Linked DNA regions of Homo sapiens. The protein of the gene in region 2 purifies or fractionates together with the protein of the main gene of each other region. This does not show direct contact. Each region holds a gene or a part of one and is shown on either strand. Other genes may lie near its edges.

Evidence for each region. Proteins that work in one complex are often made in the same cells at the same time.
Region 1: the proteins of TRIB2 (region 2) and STK40 purify together in Homo sapiens (affinity purification with mass spectrometry; 3 studies listed by BioGRID and IntAct, with this or other methods). This does not show direct contact.

The regions. Positions count from the first base shown.
Region 1 is NC_000001.11:36,358,425-36,361,924, forward strand, and holds part of STK40 (serine/threonine-protein kinase 40), read right to left. Parts: intron 2,917-3,500; 5' UTR 2,909-2,916; coding exon 2,797-2,908; intron 414-2,796; coding exon of another isoform or gene 399-413; coding exon 313-398; intron 1-312. UniProt on the Homo sapiens protein: May be a negative regulator of NF-kappa-B and p53-mediated gene transcription.
Region 2 is NC_000002.12:12,723,436-12,726,935, reverse strand, and holds part of TRIB2 (tribbles homolog 2), read right to left. Parts: coding exon 3,384-3,500; intron 1-3,383.

The DNA of each region.
Region 1 (3,500 bases), on a different chromosome or scaffold from region 2:
ACTTTACACAGCAGAACAACCAGAACGGGGGAAGCAGGGGGCTTTTTACCACATGACATTTGTGCACAATGCACACACAAACACACCAAGTGAAATCGTTTTTCTTAATATGATGGTGATGTAATTTATGCACAGACAAAACTCTTTAAATCAGAAGTTGTTCTGAGGGAGACTGTGAACTTGATTGCTTCTCGGGAAGAAATGGCGCTACTCTTGTTCACAATGACGCAGGTGTGAAGGTGGAGGAGGGAGGAGTGGGTTGGCATGACAGGCCCTGTTCCTGAGGCACCCTCACCCCCATGTCTCACTTACCTTCAGCTGATAGAAGTCATCCGTGCCATCTTTCCTCGCCAAACACTGCACTATGCTTGGCACCGGTGAGTTGCCCAGACGGGGACCTACGGCACAGAGAGCTGCTGGTCTACTTTTCAGAAGCCCTGGCTGTCACGACGCCAGGTCACCACGTGGTCTTTTACTAGACCTTCTATTCAGGAGGGCACCATAGCTCATGTGTACTGGACTGACCCTCCAAGGTCTCCTGGTGGAGAGTTTTCAAGGTCTCCCCTCCAAAAATAGAGGGGTATGTGTGCTCTGCCTGGAGCACATCCAGCTTTTGCAAACACATTTCCCAAAGAGAGGTTTTCAACCCTGGGTGCACGCTGGAATGTCTAGTGAGCATCTATTAAAAACAAGAGATCCAGGCTGGGTGTGGTGGCTCACACCTGTAATCCCAACACTTTGGGAGGCTGAGGTGGGAGGACTGCTTGAGCCCAGGAGTTTGAGACCAGCCTGGGCAACACAGTGAGACTTCTTCTCTACAAAAAATAAAATATTGGCTGAGCATGGTGGAGCATACCTGTAGACCCAGCTACTTGGAAGGCTGAGGTGGGAGGATCGTTTGAGCCCAGGAGGCTGAGGCTGCAGTGAACTGTGTTTGTGCCACTGCACTCCAGCCAGGGCAACAGAACAAAGCCCTGCCTCAAAAAAATCAACAAAACCCAAGAGATCCTGGATCCCCTGAAGAGCAACTTCAGGGTGAGGATCCAGGAAACTAGAGCCGCAACAGGTTCCCTGGAGATTCTGATACAGCCATCTGGCCCCTGTCCAAGTGCCAGCTTTGGGGACTTTCTGTACTTCTGGAGATGCACAGTGCTCACTGTCCCGTGACAGCACCTTGCCCAAGCTTTGAGAGTGGAAATCTGATGTCACAGTGCCACTGCTGCGTGAAAAACTCTTAACGAAGCTCCGCTGCTCTTGGTTTTCCTTTTTACCAGTGCAATGTTCACAGACCCACTGCTCTTAACATACCACCCAAACTCCTTTGTCTGGCCCCCAAGGCCTTGCATGATTCAGTTCCCGCCCACCTTTCTAACAGGATGTTCCATTCCCTGTCCCATGCCACACTCCAGCTCCTAATGTTGGGCTCCTAGTTCCCAACATGGTAAGCCCTTTCCTGCTGCTGGGCCTCTGCAGTGCTGTTTCTTCTGTCTGCAATGTTCTTCCCCAGCTTTCCCCACAGTTGCTGCTTCTCCTCCTCAGGTGTCAGCTCATATGGTGTTTCCTCATAAACAGGCCTTTCTTGCCTGCCCTACCTACGGGCCCTTCTCATCTCACGTCATCGTGGAACTTCCTTCAAGGCACTTGCACCACCGGTGATGACTGGTGAGTTGTTTACTCTGTTTCTCTGTGAGGGCAGGAACTTGTCTTATTCACTGCTGCATGCCTGGCAAACAGCACAGGCCTGGCAAACAGCACAGGCCTGGCACGTAGTAGGTACACACCATTAAGTATGTACTGAATGACTGGAGCTGGAACTATCCTGAGCCTGTAAGTCCAAAATGCTGTCCCAAAGTAAAACTCACGCCCAGTCTCTGGCTGCAACCCTGACTATAAGCAATTTGGACTGCTGGTCCTTATGCATCATGCAGAAATGCTTTGCTGCTCCTCTGGCCAACTGCCAACACCTGTGCCAGGATTTCTGTGCCAATTTAAATAAATTTGGGGGGCTATACAAAATGCTTTGTGAAATTATGCCATCCAAGAATGGCATAAAGCAGTGCCTTGGATGATAGATCTTGGGTTTTCATTTTATTTTATTTTATTTTATTTTATTTTATTTTATTTTTTTAGAGAGAGAGTCTCGCACCGTTGCCTAGGCTGGAATGCAGTGGCGTGATCACGACTCACTGTAACCTCAAACTCCTGGGCTCAAGTAATCCTCCTGCCTCAGCCTCCCAAGTAGCTAGGACTACAGGCATGTGACACCACACCCAATTAATTTTTATATTTTTCTAGTAGAGATGGGATCTCACTATGTTGCCCAAGCTTGCAAAGTCTTGAACTCTTAGCCACAAGTGATCCTCTCACCTCAGCCTCGAAAAGTGCTGGGATTACATAAGTGAGCTATTGCACCTGGCCAGAGCTTGGGTTCTAATGCAGCTAATGACTTCTAATGGGTGTGCTTCCTGTGAGCACGTCACCATTCTAGGGGCACACATAGGATTCTCTGGGGGGAGAGTCGGAGCCTAGCTATTGGCTAAGGCTGATCTAAGGCTGGTATGGCTAAAACACTGACAGCCCCTGGTACAGAGTGACCCAAGGCTTGGGTCTTCCACTGATATAAACATATTCTGTTTCAAGTAGTGAAGCTAGGGACCAAGCCTGGGGCAGGGCAGGACCACACACTGCTGTGGGTGGGCCACCTCACTCTGATGTCTGTAGGTCAGATCATGCGAGCCAATGTGCCCTGCCCCTGCCTCCCAGCCCACCCATTTTTCCCAAAGGTCAGAGGCTTACCAAGGATGAATGGTCCAGCTCTCTTTGCATTATTTCCAGAAATCCCACTTCCTAGAGCCTTGGCCCTGGCCGACGTTTCCCCAGCTCCTCTGTCTGATGCTCTCCGCTTCATTCTCAGCTCTAGACAAGACAGAAAGACCCCTTCTCACTGAGTAAGTCAGCGAGTTTCCTTATGCTAACCCAGCCTGCAGGCCTTTGACTTGGGATGCATCACACAGCTGCCGCTGCTGCCTCCAACTCCTCCTGCTACCAGGGGAGCATCCAAGGCTCCAAGTGACAAAGAACCACAGCTCCTTTACTTGGGATTAATTAGATGCTAAAGGTGGACATCCTTTAAGGCAGCATATACAGGGTACAGAGGCGGGGAGCCAACACACCACCACCAAGTGGCCAGTTAAATTCAGAGAGGAGAAAACTGGGCTTTGTGCAGATGCTAATGCCAAACAGAGCCCCAAGAGACTACCACAGAGACAGAGAGGAGAGCCAGCCCCATCCAGCTGAACCCCAGCCCTGAGGTGAGCAACTGTTCCCAAAGTGAGACCTGCCCTCCAAATACCTACAGCCTAATGACCCGAGGTGCCCATTCCTGGCCCGTATCTGGACAGTGGGCCCCAGGAATGGGATGCTTGTTACACGAGGCCTGGGGGCTTCTTATGCCCACGGAGTTTGATGACTACAGCCCTGAGAACCCCTCTCCCCATCTT
Region 2 (3,500 bases):
TGGATGGCCATGGATGCAGAGTCCCAGATGGCACACAATCGAAACTTTAGGCACAAGGAGTCAGCCCATAGGCAGGTCTTCTTCTGCACCAGGTGGGCCTCAGCCAATTTCACACGTAAAGCCTGCACTTTCGATTGCTTTCCAGATCACCAGAGTTCAAGAAGCACATCACTGAGAAGAAGACTGATGCGCAAAAGAGGTGTGTGATGGTCAGAAGATGAATAAAGCAGCACTTCCCAAATTTGCTTCTTTGCTTTTTCACCGTGGGACCAATGCCCAAAAGGTGAGAAAACAGACATTAACTCTGTGGTTTAGCTTTCCAAAAGCCTTTAAAATTTAACCCATTGCTTCCTTACACTTTCGATGTTGTTGAGGGAGAAGGAAGCTTTAGCTCCACTAAAAGTGATGCAATTAGGGTGGAAGATGAGAGTTCCCAGCAGCAAGCATGGAGCCAATGAGGTCCTGGGCCCCTGACACTTGGCCTCACACTCTTCCCTCAGGAAGTGCTGGCAATGTGCTCCATGTAGGCCACCATGCAGGCCAAATAAAAGAGAATCTGCCATGAAACTCAATGCTGCCAGGAGGCAGAGAAGGAGAAATACATTGTGGAACAAAAAGCAGAAGTTTCACATTCTGGAATCGAGAGGTTAAAATACAAAACAACAAGAAGAAAAAGGTGACTAGGCATGATTCCCCTTTCACAAAAAGTTGATAGTTGGATTTTAGAAAAACAAAAAAGCTCTTTATCAATCAGCTACTGCTGAGAACATTCAAAATGTCCTTGAAAACAGAGGTGACCTTCTCAGAGCTGCCCAGACAGACACTTGTCATGTTCCTGAAAAGCAAGCCCACTGGGACCTCCATGTGACTTGGGCTGGAAGAAGAGCTCTCGATGGAATGACAGGATTTCCAGGCTGGCTGCACCCTCAGACTGGCTGTGTAACATTAAGCCAGCTAGGTGACCCTGCCATGAGGCCAAGTAACCTCACTGATCAGATGGAGGAGTTCTCATTTTCTCCAAGGTCCTACAGGGCATCAGCCTCAAGGCTGGCCCCTGGGGCAACACGGCTGCATGGCCAAAGGGGCTATCACACATGCCACCATGCTGTAGGGACTATATAGGCCAGCTCCCTACAGTCCTTTACATTCTCTTTTTACCTTGGAAAATGCTCTTGAAAATGAAAAAGGATTTTGCTTTGACATGTTTACTCCAGGCAATTGTTTCGGTTTCACATTCACACTGGATACTCCTTTCTGGTTATCTCTGGACAGGGTCATGCTCTTTCGCGAAAGTCAAACGTAACTTCCAGACGGAATGTCAGAGGCACACACTCCTGAGGTTGGAAGCTTCTTCCCTGGATCCTGGGACATCAAGGATTTTGGCGTGTGATGACACACTCATAAAGGAGAAGCAAAGGCTGGGTGGGAGTAAAAGCCCTCCACAGCCCAGGTGAGGCCTGGCTGTGCTTCACTGGCTCCTAGCTAGCTGTGTGCACTGGGGCGTGCTCTCACCTCTGGAGTTCTGCCTCCTGGCAGCAAACCAAGAGAGTGCCACACAGACTATGCAACCTCCGGGTCCACTTTTGTTCCCATGTTCTATGACTTGGGGACCTCCACCCTGCTCTACTCATTTGCACAAACATGTATTCACTATGGGGGTCCTATCCCTGAATAGGCCATTCCTTCTACTCGTTGGTGCCCGAGAGTTCCTCCCTATGGAAACACAATCAAAGACGACACTTAAAAACACAGATCCCTGCGAGAGAGGGCATTTGCTGTCCCCATGCCCTCTGGCAGACAAATGAATTTCTTGAGAGCTGACTTACTAGTGAATGTGGCCTTACTTCTGCTCTTTCCTGTCCGTAACTTTGGGACTTCACCACGTTGCACTTTGGAGCTCTCGTCTATACAATGGACATGATGACATTCACTTCAATAGGGAGAGAGAATTAAACTTTAACCTTATGGTAAGAGGTAAACAAATATGACCTCTTATTTTTGTAGGTGCAGTTATTAAATCTCCAAGAAAGGTGGAACATACAAGGGTAGAGAGAATACCTTTGTCAGTATCGTTGGGGGTCAACATATATTCATCTTCTAAATGAGAATATTCAAAGAAGCACATACACCAATTTATTATTAATTGAAAAGACCTTAGAGCCAATACAGCATACAGAAGGTAACAGAAGGAGAAATATGAGGCTGGTAGGGGGAGGGTGGAAACAGACGAAGGACCAATCCAAGATCACAGAGGGTATCGAAGGCAAAACCAGGGGAAACATCTCCAGGCTCCAGGGGCAGAGGCATCTGAGCGGAAGAGAAAAGGTAAATGTGGTTCCACACTCTAAATCTTCCAACAGCTGCCCCTTCTCAGTTTGTTAATAAAGGTAAAGGCATTCACAAGCAAAGATCAAGATATGAGCTGGTCTCCACATTATGTGGGGCCTCATTCAGGAACTACGGTGAGCAATGAATACAGATTTGTTGCCTCTGTCCCTCTAAACTCATATTCTTAAAAAGAACAAAAAGGGCTTGAAGGAGTTCTTGTAATCAAAATCGGCTGGGAGAGAAAGCAGGGCCCCAGCAGAGTCTGCTAAATAGAAGGTAATGAGTTAACGGCATAAGCCAGTTGCCTGCATCCTGTCCAGCTGTCTCCTCCAATAACCAAGACCTCTGCACTGCCATGCATTTGCATCAGCAGTTTCCTCACCTGGAATGCGGTCTTTCCCACATTTCCTGAAATCCAGTCATCTTTCGAGTCTTGGCTCCAAAATCACCCCTCCTGTAAAACCTTCCTTGACTCTCCAAGTCCTAGGGAGAACTGACATGTCCCCACCACCCCAGTTCTCATCCCACCCAGCACGGACCTCTATTCTGAGCTGGTAGCATTTCCTTTATAGGTCCGTTGGCTATCTAATTCATCTAGATATTAATAGTACTGAGAATTGTGACTAATACCTAATATAAGCTTAGGTAAGAGCTACTGAATGAGTGCATGGATGAATGAATTATAAATGACTGATTCTGGCTGCTGAGTGTTCTGCGGGTAGAATTTTCAAGGCCCTGCCTTTACTGGCATTGAAAATGTCAAAGAGGTTTGCAGCCACCTTCGGAATTCAAGACACCTAATCATACATATTCATTGGGTCACAGAATATCCTGGTACCTGTCCTTTGAGCACCAGATGACACCTTTAGAATAGTAGCTATTTGTTTTCCCAAACACTTGAAAATTGCAATATTCACTTCCTTTTGCCCTCCTAAGATTCCTTCCCCTCATCTGGACCACAGACGGCAAAAAAACGTCCATTCAAGACTTTTCTAGGAAGCTGTTGTTAGGAGCAGTCCATCACAGTACCCAGGTCTGGACAGGATGAGACCTACCTCTCTTCGTCCTTAAAGATGAATTTCCGCAGCTTGAGGTCCCGCAGCACCAGCCCCCCGTCATGGCAGTGGGCCACTGCCGAGGCAATCTGGTAGAACAGTCTGGCTGCCTCCTCC